2 separate regions of the Homo sapiens genome follow, and region 1 is linked to region 2. Evidence: fine-mapped expression QTL. A gene starts in region 2. The other region holds a variant in brackets. All regions are shown on one strand. Distances are from middle to middle.

Region 1 (8,329 bases), 27 kb before region 2:
TGGGTGGGTGAAGCTCCATCATTTCCAGGCCCCTTAGTCAGACTCAGCCGCAACTCTGGGGCAGAAAGACGCTTGCGCATGGGGCGCTGGCCACACAGGGCTAAAGTGCTGGGGGTACCTGCAGCTGGAGAAAGGGGGAAAAAGAGAACCAAGATGGGTGTGTGTGTTGGAGAGCCGAGAGGGCTAGAATTCCTGTATGTGAAAGTGATAATATGGGGTGAATGCTGAAGAAGGACTCACGCAGGGGAGATTTGGGAAAAGGGGGAAATGGAACTGTAAAAGGATAGAGGTGGCATAGCCCTTTACTGGACTAGAATCAAGAACTTGAGGCCTGGTTTCTACTTGACCTACCTGCCTGTGAATCTCCTTTAGGGTCTTCAGGATCTTCAGAAGTGCCAGCCTCCTCAGGAAGCAATCTAGAGGGGAAGAGATTAAAAGGCGGCAGACATATACACCAAAGGCATCAAGCCAGGACTCAATATATAGGTTCTCTCTCCCCACCATGATTTTATCACCTATGCTGCTTTTTTTTTTAATTGTTTTTTTGAGACAGGGTCTCACTCTGTTGCCCAGGCTGGAATGCAGTGGCACAATCACAGCTCACTGCAGCCTCTACCTCCAGGGTTCAAGCGGTCCTCCCACCTCAGCCTCCCGAGTAGCTGGGCCTACAGGTGTGCACCACCACACTTGGCTAAATTTTGTATTTTTGTAGAGATGGGGTTATGCCATGTTGCCCAGAGTAGTCTTGAACTTCTGAGCTCAAGTGATCCACCTGCCTCGGCCTCCCAAAGTGCTGGGATTACAGGCATCAGCCACCACGCCCGGCCTCTGTTTTCTTTTTCCCATTTTTTTCCTTCAAGTCCTAATTCACCATCCCTGTGTCCATTTGCTTTTTTTTTTTTTTTTTTTTTTTTTTTTTGAGACAGAGTTTCACTCTTGTTGCCCAAGCTCGGGTGTAATGGCACAATCTCAGCTCACTACAACCTCTGCCTCCCAGGTTCAAGTGATTCTCCTGCCTCAGCCTCCCGAGTAGCTGGGATTACAGGCATGTGCCACCACACCTGGCTAATTTTGTATTTTTAGTAGAGACGGGATTTCACCGTGTTGGTCAGGCTGGTCTCAAACTCCTGACCTCAGGTGATCCACCCGCCTCGGCCACCCAAAGTGCTGGGATTACAGCCATGAGCCGCCGCGCCATCCCCTCCGTCCATTCGTGACCACCCCTCCCTTCTCCCAGCCACCCTCACACGTCCTCACCTAGGGAATTCTTCATCCTGCCATTCCTCCTTCAGCTCCAACTCCCCATGTCTCAGGGCTGCTCCTAGTTCTGGTGCTTCTGCAATCTCCCTGACCCTAAGACAGCCCCCAAGAAGAAAAGATCAAGGGAACTGAATAGTAGGTAAGAATAATTGAAATGAAGAACAGTAATTGAGATACAGAGCAGAGGATAGGCCTTCAAAAGGACTCAGATCTCTTGCCTCCTATACAGATGCTTCTCTTACCTTCACCACTTGCTAGAAGCAGATTACCTGCTGTTAAGTTTGGGAGCAGACGAAAGATGGAATGTAAAGTTAATCATATTTACCTCTGTAGCAGTTGCTCCACCTACAAAGTTGGGGTGAGAGATGTCCCACATTACAAGTGGCTGGAACCCAGCTAGACCCACCCAGCTATCATTGAGCAAAGTCGGGAAGACGGTACCTAGTTAGGCCTGCCTTTCCTCCACCGAGCTGGGGAGTGGCTAAGGGAAAACATGGCATAAGTGGAGGGGTGGAGGAAGAAGGTAAGGAGAAAGATTTGCCAGAACGAGAACCTGGACCTAAACTCGGTTCTGGTTCAGCTTTCCTGATGGCCATTCTGGAGGGTGAGGGTTAGAAAATAAAAGAACACAGGCAGATTTATCAGGTACAACATATTACAGAAACTTCCTTTATTTTTAAACCAGGGAATTATCCTGGAATCCTGTTCCCCAGTTCCATACCATACTGACATTTCCTACCTAAAACCACCCTCATCTCTTCTCTGCAAACTCTCTTACAGTCTTGTCTCCTTGAGGAACCCGAGATTTGACCCAGTAAGAGCTGGGTGGTGGGGAAGTCTCTCCGGACTGTTTATTCACTGTTACCAATCAAGTGAGCCAAGATCTTACTTACCCAACATCTGTCTTTTTTCCTGCCTCTTGTATAGTTCCCATCTTCACAAGTCTTCCTGCCTCCTTCTTTAAACACCTAGGAGTTGTTGGGGAGCTGGTTGTCCCAGCCCCCAACACTTCCTTACCTCTTTTCTGTCTCAGCTGTTGTAGCTCTTGCCTCCAAGGAGGGAGGTGTGGAAGGGAGGTAACCTCATCTTCAAAACAGGTTTTGCCACTCCTCTCCCCAGGAGCAGGTTTGCCCAAAAGAAAAACCCTGCCTCCTGTGAGGGGGCGGGTTTTGGGGAGGAGAGTGCATTTTCTAGTGGGGGCCAGTCTCGGTTGAGTCTAGGAAGGCAATTTGTTCTCCTTTCCAGACTCCATATATCCCTCTCAAAGTTGCTCTTTACACAAATAAGCAAAAAAACCAGTAGAAACCGTTGTGTTTCTGGCCGGGCGTGGTGGCTCACACCTGTAATCCCAACACTTTGGGAGGCCAAGGCAGGCGGATCACCTGAGGTCGGGAGTTTGAGACCAGCCTGACCAATGTGGAGAAACCCCATCTCTACTAAAAATCCAAAAAAAAAAAAAAAAAAAAAAAAAAAAAAAAATTATCTGGGCGTGGTGACACATGCCTATAATCCCAGCTACTTGGGAGGCTGAGGCAGGAGAATCGCTTGAACCTGGGAGGCAGAGGTTGTAGTGGGCTGAGATTGTGCCATTGCACTCCAGCCAGGGCAAAAAGAGCAAAACTCCATCTCAAAAAAAAAAAAAAAAAGAAAAAGAAACCATTGTGTGTGTTTCTAGGACTGTTATCTTGGATCTACTTTTCAAGCATAAGGAAAACTGGGGAAACGGAAGTATGTTATAAGGAGGTTTCTGGGAGAATAAACAAGTTGAACGGGAGGCTGAGGATGAGGGGAGACAGAAGCCTGTTGCTCCTTATTCCCAAAAAGAGTCAACAGAAAGAAGACATTAAGTATAGTAGGAAGAAGGGGGATCAATTTTGAGGAGACTGAAACAACTATCACAGAGAAAGGCCTGAATACACTTGTAAAAAAAGACAGTAAGACCCCCAAACAGGAAAAAATTATTTAATAGTATAACAAAATGCAAAATAAAGTACCCAAGTTACAAAACATAAATTCCTTTGGTTCATGATCACACCACTATTTTTACCTTCCACATAGCTACAGACATCACACCCTCAAAGTGAAGTCAAACTGTCCCCCTCATACTGAAGATGTCATGCCAAAACCATCACATACCCCACTGTTCAGTGAAACTGTTGGCAACTTACATGGAACAGAGCTGTGGGGTAGGAAAAAGGGGAAAGGGTTGCGTTAAAAAAAATGGGGAGACTCTACACATGCAGAACAAGTTAGTGGGAGGGAGTGCTCTGCTGGGTCAACACGCCATGAACCACACCCCTATTCGTGCTACATGAGGCTGAGTCCTTGCTACAACCACACAGAAATACAGACAATCAAGTGAACCTGAGCACCCCCAGGGATAACAGAAGAAAAATACAGAGAAGCAGAGGAGAGAAAGAATGGCAGCAAGAGGCAGATCACAGAATACCAGGGAACACCTAGTCCAAACCCTGTTTTACAGATGGGGAAAGTGAGACCTGGAGTAGTGAAGTGTCTTGCCAAAATACATAGTTTATGGGAGCATTAGAACTCCATGCTTCCTTTTAATGTGAGCAAGGAAAAAAAGAGATTGACAAGAAATTGATAGGCCTGCTAAGGCAGGAGACAGACCCAGGCCTCTCATTCCAGTTCTGTTGTCTTTTTGGAAGAGTGCCTATGAGGTCATTAAGGCCTTTCTGGGTGTTTTCTTGATTCTCAAGAGTCAGGGTTCTGGGTGGCTCTGGGACAGAGGGATCCAAAGAAACAGCCAGGCCACCTGATCAGGACAGAAGACAATGGCCTCTAATCTGTTCCCAAACTAGATCTGAAACAGTCACAATAAGCTAAGAATAGAAATTCAGCCATCTCTGAATCAAACACCATCACCTAAATGGTGGCAGAAAGAAAAGTCACCGAGCTGATAATCTGCTGTAGGCTGAAAACTGGAATAAATTTCCAAAGCGCACTCTCTTTTCTCTCTAGCTTGAGGCAGGTATTCAATAAATACTTGAATGAACAAGTGAATAAATGAATACATGGAGACCATCGATGAATGTTCAGTTCCATGACAGATACTGGTTCTGTTCAAGATCCATGCCGAGGACACTTTTGGGGTCTAAATTCTTTTTGTCCCACTGTGCTGGGACTGCAGATATGTCACATCGTGCCCCTGGCAAATAAAATAGAGAGAGGTGCAGATTTAAATAATAAAATGTGTCTGATTGGTAGAGATTAGGGGGAAAAGGTGGAAAACCATTCTTAAAGCAGCTGCTTTCTTTCACTTTTTTTCTCCTCTCAGTTTTATGAGAACAGTATACCAGATCCTGGAGCAATGAAGACAGAATTGCTGAATCTCCAAACATCTCAAAACATGCATTTGAAGTGAGTCAGGTAGCCTCACCCACTACCTCCTCGCCTCTCAACAGTCACTTCTTGGACAGGGAGGCTGTGGTAGACTGTGACAGTGAGATCTGACTGCACTTCTCGAAGACGGCCTCAGCAGAGAGTTTAGGCAGCCCCTGATCTAGAGGGCACTCATCCACCAAGCTGTTCATGGGCGTCGGGGGCAGCGGAGGGTCCTCCTCATCTTGACTCAG[G/T]CCAGAAATCAGGGAGTTACTTGCCCTGTCCAATTCCTTGTCCACTTGCTCCCTGGACACATCTGCTGTCTCAGGCTGTCCTGAAGGGATCTTCATGGAGTCAAAATATGCTGACAGGGCTTCCTGGAGCAGGGGCAGAAGTTTCTTTCGAGAGACCTGGGTGTTGCCTTGAAGATAGGCATGGAGGTTAGGGTGGGTACTTGAGGCAGGGGTCAGCTTCAGGGGTGGAGAGTGGGAGCGTTCCAGGACTTCACAGATCTAAAGAGGAGACAATAACAGGGAAATGATACACAACTTGCTGTAGCAAAGTGCTGGGCTTCTAAGTGAGAGGCTTCCTCTATAGAAGAGGAAGCTTTTAAAAAGTAAGTCGGCCGGGCGGGGTGCGGTGGCTCACGCTTGCAATCCCAGCACTTTGGGAGGCCGAGGCGGGTGGATCATGAGGTCAGGAGATTGAGACCATCCTGGCTAACACAGTGAAACCCCGTCTCTACTAAAAATACAAAAAATTAGCCGGGCATGGTGGCGGGTGCCTGTAGTCCCAGCTACTCGGGAGGCTGAGGCAGGAGAATGGCGTGAACCCAGGAGGCGGAGCTTGCAGTGAGCGGAGATCGCGCCACTGCACTCCAGCCTGGGCGACAGAGCAACACTGCATCTCAAAAAAAAAAAAAAAAAGTAAGTCAGCCGGGCGCGGTGGCTCACGCCTGTAATCCCAGCACTTTGGGAGGCTAAAGGGGGCCGATCACCTGAGGTCGGGAGTTTGAGACCAGCCTGACCATCATGGAGAAACCCCATCTCTACTAAAAATACAAAATTAGCCAGGCATGATGGCGCATGCCTGTAATCCCAGCTACTTGGGAGGCTGAGGCAGGAGAATCACTTGAACCCAGGAGACAGAAGTTGCAGTGAGCCAAGATGGTGCCACTGCACTCCAGCCTGGGCAACAAGAGCGAAACTCCGTCTCAAAAAAAAAAAAAAGTAAGTTATCCTTGAGGCCGGGCACAGTGGCTCACGCCTGTAATCCCAGCACTTTGGGAGGCCAAGGTGGGCGGATCACCTGAGGTCAGGAATTCGAGAACAGCCTTGTCAACATGCTGAAACCCCATCTCTACGAAAAATACAAAAATTAGCCAGACATGGTGGTTCACACCTGTAATCCCAGCTACTTGGGAGGCTGAGATAGGAGAATCATTTGAACCTGGGAGGCGGAGGTTGCAGTGAGCCGAGATCTCACCATTGCACTCCAGCCTGGGCAATAAAGCAAGACAAGAAAAAAAGTAAGTTGTCCAGAGTTCGGTTTTATTGTTTGCAACAGAAGGAACACTAATATACACAGTATTTTTTTTTTTTTTTGAGACAGAGTCTTGCTCTGTCGCCCAGGCTGGAGTGCAGTGGTGCAATCTCAGTTCAGTACAACCTCTGCCTCCCCGGTTCAAGTGAATCTCCTGCCTCAGCCTCCCATGTAGCTGGGACTACAGGCATGTGTCACCCAGCCTGGCTAATGTTTGTATTTTTAGTGGAGACGGGGTTACACCATGTTAGCCAGGCTGGTCTCGAACTCCTGCCCTCAGGTCATCCGCTCTCGCCTCGGCCTCCCAAAGTGCTAGGATTACAGGTGTGAGCCACCAAGCCTGGCCCACAGTATTTTATTTTAGTATTTTGTATTTTTTATTTAATAGACTAGGGATGGGGTCTTGCTATGTTGCCCAGGCTGGTCTCCAAATCCTGGTCTCAAGCAATCCTCCTGCTTCAGCCTCCGAAAGTGCTGGGATTCATACACAGTGTTTTATTTATTTTATTTTACTTTAATTTTTTTTTTTTTGAAATGGATTCTTGCTCTGTTACCCAGGCTGGAGTACAGTGGCACGATCTTAGCTCACTGCAACCTTCGCCTCCCAGATTCAAGCAATTCTCTTGCTTCAGCCTCCTGAGTAGCTGGGATTACAGGCACCTGCCATCATGCCCAGCTAATTTTTGTATTTTTAGTAGAGACGGGGTTTCGCCATATTGGCCAGGCTGGTCTCAAACTCCTGAGCTCAGGTGATCTGCCCAGCTCAGCCTCCCAAAGTTCTGGGATTACAGGCATGAGCTACCATACCCAGCCATACACAGTATTTTAAAAACAGAGGAAACAGTTTAGATTGTATATTTCATTTTATTATTAAAGTAACTAAAGCGAAGTAAGATGGTTGTGAGTAAAATCATGCAGATGATGGCAGTTAAACCAGAACCGAGGAACCCCAGCTTCTAATCTAGTGTCGTTTCCAAGTGTATAAATGTGCTCAAGAACTTGAACTAGGATGGAACTAGAATTTATCTAGAGGCCAGAAGAGGGATGGAGGAAGAAAGAATGAATTGAACAAAATAAGACTGGTATCACTATTACCCTCACTTACATGCAGGGAAACTGAGGCTTCAATGATCAGGTAACTTGCCTAAGGTCATAATTTGCATGAAGCAAAACTGACACTGAGCCCAGAGCTGTCACCAAAGCCAGTGTTCTAAATCAATATATTATACTACCCCTAACATAGGAGAAAGAGAGGAGATGGTAGAGTAGACTGTAAGAAAAGGACTCCTGGCTGGGCATAGTGGCCCACACCTGCAATTCCAGAACTCTGGGAAGCTGAGGCTGGTGGATCACTTGAGTCCAGGAGTTCGAGACCAGCCTGGGCAACATAGCGAGACTCTGTCCCTACAAAAAATACAAAAAAAATTAGCTAGCCATGGTGGTGTGCCTGTAGCCGCAGCTACTTGGGAGGCTGGGAGGATTGCTTGAACCCGGGAGGCAGAGGTTGCAGTGAGCTGAGATAGTGCCATTGTACCACTCCAGCCTGGTCAACAGAGTGAGACATCTCAAAAAAAAAAAAAAACACACACACACACACACAAAAACAAAACAGAGAGAGAAGGACTCCTGTTTCCAAGCATAGGGGCAACCTAGACAATGGTAGAGTCATTAGAAATCCACACAGCTTTAAAAGAGCAGCACAGAGGGGAGAAGATTCAGGAACGTGGAAGAGGTACTTCTAATGGCCAAAGCACCCTTTTCTTACTGACAGGATTAGTAAGAGCCACTATTTACAAAGTGCTTACTCTGCTCCAGGAGTGTGCTTTACACATGATATTACGTTTAATGATCATAGCAGAATTAGCAGTAGGTACTATTATGCCATTTCCAGATGCAGAAGTCAACTGACTTGCCTTAGCTCAAAGAGTGAGTAAGAGGCAAACCTAGAACAGAAAAGCACATCTACCTGACTTTAAAAACTGCAGTTCTTGGCCAGGTGCAGTGGCTCAGGCTTGTAATTCCAGCACTTCGGAAGGCCAAGGCAGGTGGATCACTTGAGGTCAGGAGTTCGAGACCTGCCTGGCTAACATGGTGAAACCCCATCTCTACTAAAAATACAAAAATTAGTCAGGCATGGTGGCAGGCGCCTGTAGTCCCAGCTACAGGCTGAGGTGGGAGAACTGAC
Region 2 (8,329 bases):
GAAAACCAAGACTGCCCTGGGCAAACCGTGTGTGGGGCTGCCCAACTTATAAGACATCATTCTCTTCTTTATTTAAGAAAAACATGTGTAACCCCTAATTCCAAGCCCATCCTCCACCAGCTGAAAGCACAAGCCAAACAGCCTCAGTTTTCTGACCATCAGAGAAAGAGTTCAGGGAAAATACAGCTATACTTAGCAGCATGAGGAAATCTAAGCTGCCAATGGAAAAAATACAATCTGAGGGCCACAAGTAAATAAATACAAACTTTTTTTCTTTTTTCTTTTTTTTAAAGACCCACTAGTTGGCCAGGCACGGTGGCTCACGCCTGTAATCCCAGCACTTTGGGAGGCCGAGGTGGGCCGACCACGAGGTCAAGAGATTGAGACCATCCTGGCCAACATGGTGAAACCCCGTTTCTACTAAAAATACAAAAATTAGCTGGGCATGGTGGCACATGCCTGTAGTCCCAGCTACTCGGGAGGCTGAGGCAGGAAAATCACTTGAACCTGGCAGGCGGAGGTTGCAGTGAGCCGAGATCATGCAACTGTACTCCAGCCTGGTGACAGAGCGAGACTTTGTCTCAAAAAAAAAAAAAATTAATTAATTAAAATAAATAAATGAATAAACACCCACTAGTTGAAATGACTCTCTTATCCTGATATGTTCTTTGTGGCCTCAAGAGGAGGGGGCAGGGAGGGGATTCTAGGCCTGGCAAAGTAAACCACTTCCCTTCTAAAGCTGAATATGGTATGATAACTACTCTTCAGAATAGTTAATGGGGGAGAAAAATAAACGAGACAGAAAGCCAGAGAGAGACAAACCCTCTCAGCAGAGAAAACAGGAACAATACTGATGCCAGGACTGCAAATTTCTAAGGAGAGCCAGCTCCTGATTCCTGCCTCATGCCTGAGAACTGCACACACTACATTATCCAAGGGGTCCTGGATGAACACCTAAACTGCAATGCAGCCCCACCCTGAAGCAAAGATTTCTCCCCTCAGAAGTGAAAGATGAGTCACCATAAATAGGACATTTGGTTAAATGATTTTTTTTTAATGGAACATCCTATTGTCTCTGTGGCAGAGGCTATAGAAAATTTCTGTGGTATCAAATACTAAAAATATGGTAGCAACGGGAGACTTGGCTGGATTACCAGCTGTCTTTATCCTGCACAAAGAGGAGCATTCATGATTTTCTGAAAGTTATAATTAAACTGTAGTTTAACAGAAACATTCAAACTTAAGAGTGTATCTGTCTAAATCACCTCTCTCTCTTTACACAAGAAACTTAACGGTGTCCTCTGGAGAACTGGATGGAGAGGAGAAAAGAAAAATGATCTTTATCTTTTTCATTTCATATCCCTTTGGTATTTAAATTTGTTCATGAAATACACATTTACTACTTCTATAATTTAAAGCAATCTAGGCTGGGTGTGGTGGCTCATGCCTATAATCCCAGCACTTTGGGAGACCAAGGCAGGCATATCACTTGAGGTCAGGAGTTCAAGACCAGCCTGTCCAACATGGTGACACCCTGTCTCTACTAAAAATACAAAACTTAGCCAGGCATAGTGGCGCACACTTGTAATCCCAGCTACTCAGGAGGCTGAGGCAGAAGAATCGCTTGAATTCGGGAAGTGGAGGTTGCAGTGAGCCTACTCCAGCCTGGGCGACAGAGTGAGTCTATCTCAAAAAAAAAAAAAAAAAAATTAAAGCAATTTAAATTGTTGGCATCTACCAGTATGTCTTGCCATCAGTTCCCCTGTTAACCTTCCTAGAGTCTAATTTTCTCATTTCTCCAGGCCCTGGAGAGGCTATGTGATGATGCAAGCTCTAAGACACAATCTCACCTTTCACAAGTTCACAAGTTTGAAAGGAAGATCTAGATCTTGCTCCTTGGGGGATGAATGCAGGGAGAGAAAGGTCGAGATGCCAGCAGTATTGGAAAAATCAAGTATTTTTCCAGCTTCATATTGCTGTAGAGAATATACTATTCGGGCTGGGTACAGTGGCTAACACCTGTAATTCCAACACCTTGGGAAGCCAAGCCAGGGGGATTGTTTGAGTCCAGGAGTTTGAAACCAGATTGGGCAGCATGGCGAGACCCTGTCTCTATAAAAATACAAAAAATTAGCCCTGCGTGGTGGCACTGCCTATAGTCGCAGCTTTTTCGGGAGGCTGAGGTGGGAGGATCACTTGAGCCGGGGAGGTGATCACACCATTGCACTCCAGCCAGGGCAACAGAGTGAGACCCTGGCTGAAAATAAATAAACAAATACAAAATAAAAATAGAGAATATACTACTAACCTGGGGGTCGGGGGAGGCTCTGGAGGATATATGCTGGAGAGTAGATGCATGCAAAGAAATACTATTTGGTGAGGTTTCAGGTCCAAGGGCACTTTACCAAATGGTGGAAGAGACCAGTCATTTGGGTTACTGGGGGGTAAAATCCAACTGTTTAGCACTTAGAACGGTGCCCCAAAAACTCTACATTAGTCCTCCAATAAGCGCCCTGTGGTGGACTCAGAGGTAACAAAAAGGGATTGGTTCCAAATGGCCTTATGCATTGAAATAACTCCCCAAATTTGTTTTTCACAAGGAAAATGTCTATGTAATTGGTGTTAAAATGGACCTTCTCCCCAATTCAATATGAAGACAATTCATTTATTCCAGCAGCTGAGTCTGCAGCAGGAATTAGTGACTTTCAGGATTTGTTAAAGACCAGAATCTGTCCCTCAGGGGAATTTGTAGAGTTTAAGATATCTAAAAAGGAAAGCTCAGCAAGCCATCTATCTAGGTTTCTTCAGGGCAGTATAACTCAAAGTAGAGGGGCCGGGTGACCTCCTGGAGCCTGTCTCTGGTTAGCTTTTTGCTGCTAACTGGGGATAACAGCCTAATGCCTCATGACGGCTCAGCATGGCTGGGTGAGTCCAACTGAGTCAGAGAGCACCAAAAATAAGCCACAAAGCATTGAGTAGTCATATTTATGGTTTTGATTCCAAACACACTTTGTGCTTATCCCTTCCAAGTGGAGAATTTTTATGTCATTTGTGTGCGTTAAGGCCAAAGGAGAAACCTGGAGGCAAAGGAATGCTGGTTGTGGGTCAACAAATATGCCTGATGGATTTTGTATGTTTGGCTTAAAAACACTGACTTAAAGTAAAATACTGTGACTACTTCTAACCTAGAAATGAGTTCAGCCCGCCAGACAGAAACTGCCATTCGGAGGAAATAAGGCCGTGAGCACCGGTTCCCTCCACACCCCCGAGGTTCACCTGGAGGCCAGTGGGCCAAGCGAAGCCTTGGGAGCGGAGAACTCAAAGAGGGGCGGGGAGAAAAGAATAAACACACCTCGCGGGGCTAGGCTGGCGGCGGCACAGTCCTGGTTTTTTTGATGGAACTGACCAAGATGACAGCAAGCAGAGGCTCAAATGCAGGATTCAGACCCAAGACTTCTCCCCGCTCTCAGGCGGACCCCAAAGGCGGGGAGCCAAAAACCGGGAGACTGAACAAGCAGCATTCTCACGCTCCTAAACTGGCTTCTCGCTCCTCGCTCCTCATGCCCCAAAACTGATCAGGCCCCAACCCCCCTCCCCACAACTCAGTGTTCCCTCCACACGGACCGTCGAGGCTCCCCCAGATCCCACGTCTTCGTCCTTCCTGGACCCCGTGCTCCATTCCTTACAGTCACAGACAGGGATTCGTTACCTGCAGAGCAGCTCGACAACCCTGCAGGTAGTCCTCCATGATGAAGCCCAAAGTACGCCGTCGCCCCTGGTCGAGTAGAGGTGCCCCTGGTCGAGGAGAGGTTTCCCCGACGAATGCAGCCCGCCCGGGACTCAGGGACTAGAGGCCAGAGTCAGGAGGCGGGACTCGAACCCGCCACACGGCGAATCGGCCTCCGACCCCGGGAGGAACTGCGTAAGCGGGCGCTCCGGAGTCCGGCGTCGCCCCGCCCCCAGCGGCGGAGGCGGGGCTCTACGCCCAGAGGCTCCTGGGACGTCTTTCCGGCGAGGCCAAGGGGGCGTGGCGTGGGGCGACGTGGGAAACGTAGTCCCGCAACTCCGCAATGTCCCTAGCAACCGAGGGAAGGATTGTTTTCTGAGGGATCAGTCGTTCGGTAAACAAATGTGTATGTGTCACAGTAACCCATTATTGTGGCATCTGAACTTTCCCTCTCAGATCAGGCCAAGTATAACATCTTTACATATATCACACCGAGCATCTGGTGACATTTTAAATGACACTTGGCAAAACAGATCATCTTCTTTCTACAAATTCTGCCCTTTACCAAACTGACTCAGTCGCCACCAATTTTGTGGTTGTTCATGTTAGGAGAACATTAGAATAATCTTTGACCCCTCTTGTTAACACCTACAGTCTCCTGCCAACTCCTGCTGCTTCTCCCTTTGCAACTCTGTAGCCTGTTTTTTTCTACAGCCTCGGCAAATATCTTCTTCCTTTCTTGGACGGTTGTAACCTTGGCTTTTTGCTCTCTGCCACCCTAATTGTTCCAATTGCTCTTTCAGCCTTTAGAGTTGCTTGAAATTTCATCCTGTGGCGGCCCTGTACATAGAGTTTAGGGAACCCTTCAGAATGTGGAGTTAGGTTCCAACCTCCCTTAACTGCCACTTTCCAGCCGCAGAGTAGTGCAGGTACTGCAAATAAATGGACACTCATCATCAAAAATTCCCTCATTTATTTATCTATCCCTTTATTTCCTACCGTCAGCCTCACACCAGCTTTTCCTGCTTCCCCAGCTGTAAATCGAGAGGAGGTGACTGATGAGAGGCCTGCAGTGGAACCAAGATCCAGAGCACAGGCGTGTTGGATCTCCTGCCTGCTCTGCCAGTTCTTTTCTTCTTCTTCTTCTTTTTGAGACGGAGTCTTGCTCCGTCTTCAGGCTGGAGTGCAGTGGCAGGATCTTGGCTCACTGCAACCTCCACCTCCCGGGTTCAAGCGATTCTCCTGCCTCAGCCTCCCGAGTAGCTGGGACTACAGGCATGTGCCACCATGCCCTGCTAATTTTTGTATTTTTAGTAGAGATGGGGTTTCACTATGTTGGCCAGGTTGGTCTTGATCTCTTGACCTTGTGATCCGCCCGCCTTGGCTTCCCAAAGTGCTGGGATTACAGGCGTCAGCCATCGCGCCCAGAGCCTGGGGCTTCTACCACACCCTCTGCACTCTACCAGGTGCACAACCCAACCAGTTTCATTTCTAGACTTAAAAATGATACAGCAAGGACTTGGAAAGGAGCTCTCTGGAGGGCTCCAGAGGGAAAAGAGCTGGGTTTGTTTGTTTGTTTTTAACATTAATTGAGTAATACATGCAAATATCGTGCTCTTTGCTCCTGCTTCTGTGGATCCAGAGCAAAGGACTGCCATACCCAGAGAGAGAGCCCAGATCCAACAAGCTGCTTCTGTCCAGCCCTTCTCCTCCCTACTTAGCAAGGGCACTTGCTCTTCCCTATTCTCACCAGAGAGGCACAAGCGCTCCGTCCCTTCTAGAGGCAGGCAGAGGGAAGAGAAAGGGTCTGTTGTTTTTCTCTCCTGTTTCTCGCTCCCTCTCTGCTGATCACAAAGCTGCTGACCGGGTCAGAAAGTCCTGATGGAAATCCACCAGCGCTGGGCAGGCCCCTCCTCCTCCAGGGAGCTTGTCCTTGCCTAATTTTTCTTCGTCCTGATGAGAACAAAAAAGAGAGAGAGAAGAAAAGAAAAACCACAAACTTCCTTTGAAAACCAGCTTGTAGTCAGGGCCCGGAGCGCATGCCATAGACTCGGCGACTCAGGAATCCTGAAGACTCTCTGAGCGACCTGGAGCACCTTGGCTGTGTCCCTGCCTGCCTTCACCCTCCTCCAGTGCCCCCAGTACTGGGCGTGAGTCCGGAAGTGGCCACAACCCAGCCTGGACCGTCGCTTATAAAGCTGTGTAAACCTGTATAAGCTCAGGCGTTGACAGCTGGAAGGCAGCTGGCACTGGCAGCCCCCTTCATTGCACCTATCTCCCCCATCTCATTGCCACGGCTGAACCCTCCTTCTCAATCTTGGAACAGCACCCCCTTCTTTAAGGTAAAAACTTTATTTTAATCATCTTCTTCACCTCTTCTCCCACCCTTCTCTATTTCCTCTCCAGCTTTGGGGAGCTGACACCTGCTGTCCTTCCACCTTTGGTCTGCAAGTCTGGATTGCTTAGAGGAGCTAAGTCAGGAGAGACATGTAAAGGGGATGCTGCTTGGTCCTCCTCCTTTTAATGAAAGCACGAAACCTTCCCCCTCTCCTTGTGAGCAAGTATACAGGGCACTGTGGCCATGGTTGACATATTCTGAGATGAAAATCTAAACTATTGATTGCACAAAGACATAGGTCAGACTAAGAAGGAGATTGGTGTGAGACAGTAAGGGAACTGTTCCTACAGAGAAGGAGTGTCTTCTTGAAGCTACATACCTGTTTTACGTGCTTCTTCCAACTTTCGGCTCTCTACTGCCATTGATTAGGGAGGAGCCAGGATTATTTTAACTCCCTCACTCACCACCATAATTCCAGCTGGAGAGAAAGTGTAGGATTTGACGAGCTAAGAAAGAGGAGGAAAAGAATGAAACTTTGATTTATCTGACTATCCTCTCCCTCATTCTTTCCTACTCTGAAATACTCCATGCCCTCCCCAGCAGGATTGGACGTTGTAGAGTAGAAAGCCTCCATTACATTTCCTGCCCCTGCCTCTTAAGACTTAGCCCATTTAGCTCTGCCCAGTTCCTCTGAGACCCCACTCCCTCAGGTGTCCACTCCTGGGTTCCTTTGGCTCACCTCTCCAGCCAGCTAGCTGCCCAACCCCCACTTCATCATTGATCATTTCTGGCACTGGAGAGAAAATATAAAAAATAAGGCCTGCTTTTCTTTTTTTTTTTTCTTTTTTTCTTTTTTTTTTTGGAGGCAAGAGTCTCACTCTTGTCACCCAGGCTGGAGTGCAGAGGCACAATCTTGGCTTACTGCAACCTCCACCTCCGGGGTTCAAGCAATTCTCCTGCCTCAGCCTCCTGAGTAGCTGGGATTACAGGTGCCCGCCACCGTGCCCGGCTAATTTTTGTATTTTTAGTAGAGATGGGGTTTCGCCATGTTAGCCAGGCCGATCTTGAGCTCCTGACCTCAGGTGATCCGCCCGCCTCGGCCTCTCAAAGTGCTGGGATACAGGTGTGAGGCACTGTGCCCGGCCAAGGCCTGCTTTTCTTCAAGCTTTTTCACTTTTCCAGGCTCTGGCATCTGCTTTGAGGTTCACCCTAAGTGTCATTTAAGGGGAGAAGGAAAGGAGAGAGAGAAAGAGAGAGAAAAAAAAGCATAAGGCCTGCAGGCAATTTTTGCTACTCTGATTCTAAATTAACAACACGTAAATGATATGCAGCTAGCATAAACATATGTGAATCAAGAGGATAATCAATTTGAGTGACTAGGCTTATTTTGTTTCAGTAACTTTAATGTTCCTCAACCTCATCTCCCAGGCCTTCCCCTAGCCCCAAATTCCTGTAGGTTTACAAGAAGGAAGCAGTCTCAGGCTGGGAGGAGGGTGGAGAAAAGACAAGATTTCTAACTAGTTTAATTTATTTTATTTTATTTTATTTTATTTTATTTTATTTTATTTTATTTTATTTTATTTTTGAGATGGAGTTTCGCTCTGTCACCCAGGCTGTAGTGCAGTGTCACCATCTCAGCTCACTGCAACCCCCTGCCTCCCAGGTTCAAGCAATTCTCCCACCTCAGCCTCCCGAGCAGCTGTGACTACAGGCACGTGCCAACACACCTGGCTAATTTTTGTACTTTCAATACAGACAGCGTTTTGCCATGTTAGCCAGGATGGTCTCGATCTCCTGACCTCAAGTAATCTGCCCGCCTCAGCCTCTCAAAGTGCTGGGATTACAGGCGTGAGCCACCGCGCCTGGCCCCTAACTAGTTTAATTTCTCCCTGTTTCTCTCCCTGATAAAGAGTGGGAGGGGAGCAAGGAGATTGAAGGGAGATGTTTTCCAAAGGGCAGGATTTGTGGTTTTTTATTATTTATACCCACAGTATTAGTTAAATGTCTATCTGTGCTTGCCTCAATGTGCCTCCAGTGCTGATAGAGAACAGGTTAAACAGGTCCGGTGTTCACATCTAAAATGACCTGGAGAGGACTGGGCACGGTGGCTCATGCCTGTAATCCCAGCACTTTGGGAGGCCAAGGTGGGAGGATCACCTGAGGTCGGAAGTTCAAGACCAGCCTGACCAACATGGAGAAACTCCATCTCTACTAAAAAATACAAAATTAGCTGGGCATGGTGTTGCATGCCTGTAATCCCAGCT

What was found.
Region 1: its variant is fine-mapped to the expression of PRUNE1 in whole blood (TOPMed, PIP above 0.99).

Annotation. Positions count from the first base shown.
Region 1 is chr1:151,030,591-151,038,919 of GRCh38, reverse strand. It overlaps PRUNE1 (prune exopolyphosphatase 1), which reads right to left. Exons shown (of 8, transcript NM_021222.3): 8 at 3,207-5,114. The coding sequence ends at 4,686. It overlaps BNIPL (BCL2 interacting protein like), which reads right to left and starts at 2,334. Exons shown (of 10, transcript NM_138278.4): 1 at 2,154-2,334; 2 at 1,258-1,353; 3 at 352-416; 4 at 1-124. The coding sequence starts at 2,194. The variant G/T (reference allele first, on the strand shown) is at 4,857.
Region 2 is chr1:151,004,052-151,012,380 of GRCh38, reverse strand. PRUNE1 (prune exopolyphosphatase 1) reads right to left here and starts at 3,932. Exons shown (of 8, transcript NM_021222.3): 1 at 3,710-3,932. The coding sequence starts at 3,748. MINDY1 (MINDY lysine 48 deubiquitinase 1) reads left to right here and starts at 5,479. Exons shown (of 10, transcript NM_001376665.1): 1 at 5,479-6,069. RefSeq lists enhancers at 3,293-3,342, 2,998-3,538, 3,539-4,081, 5,574-5,753, 5,984-6,243.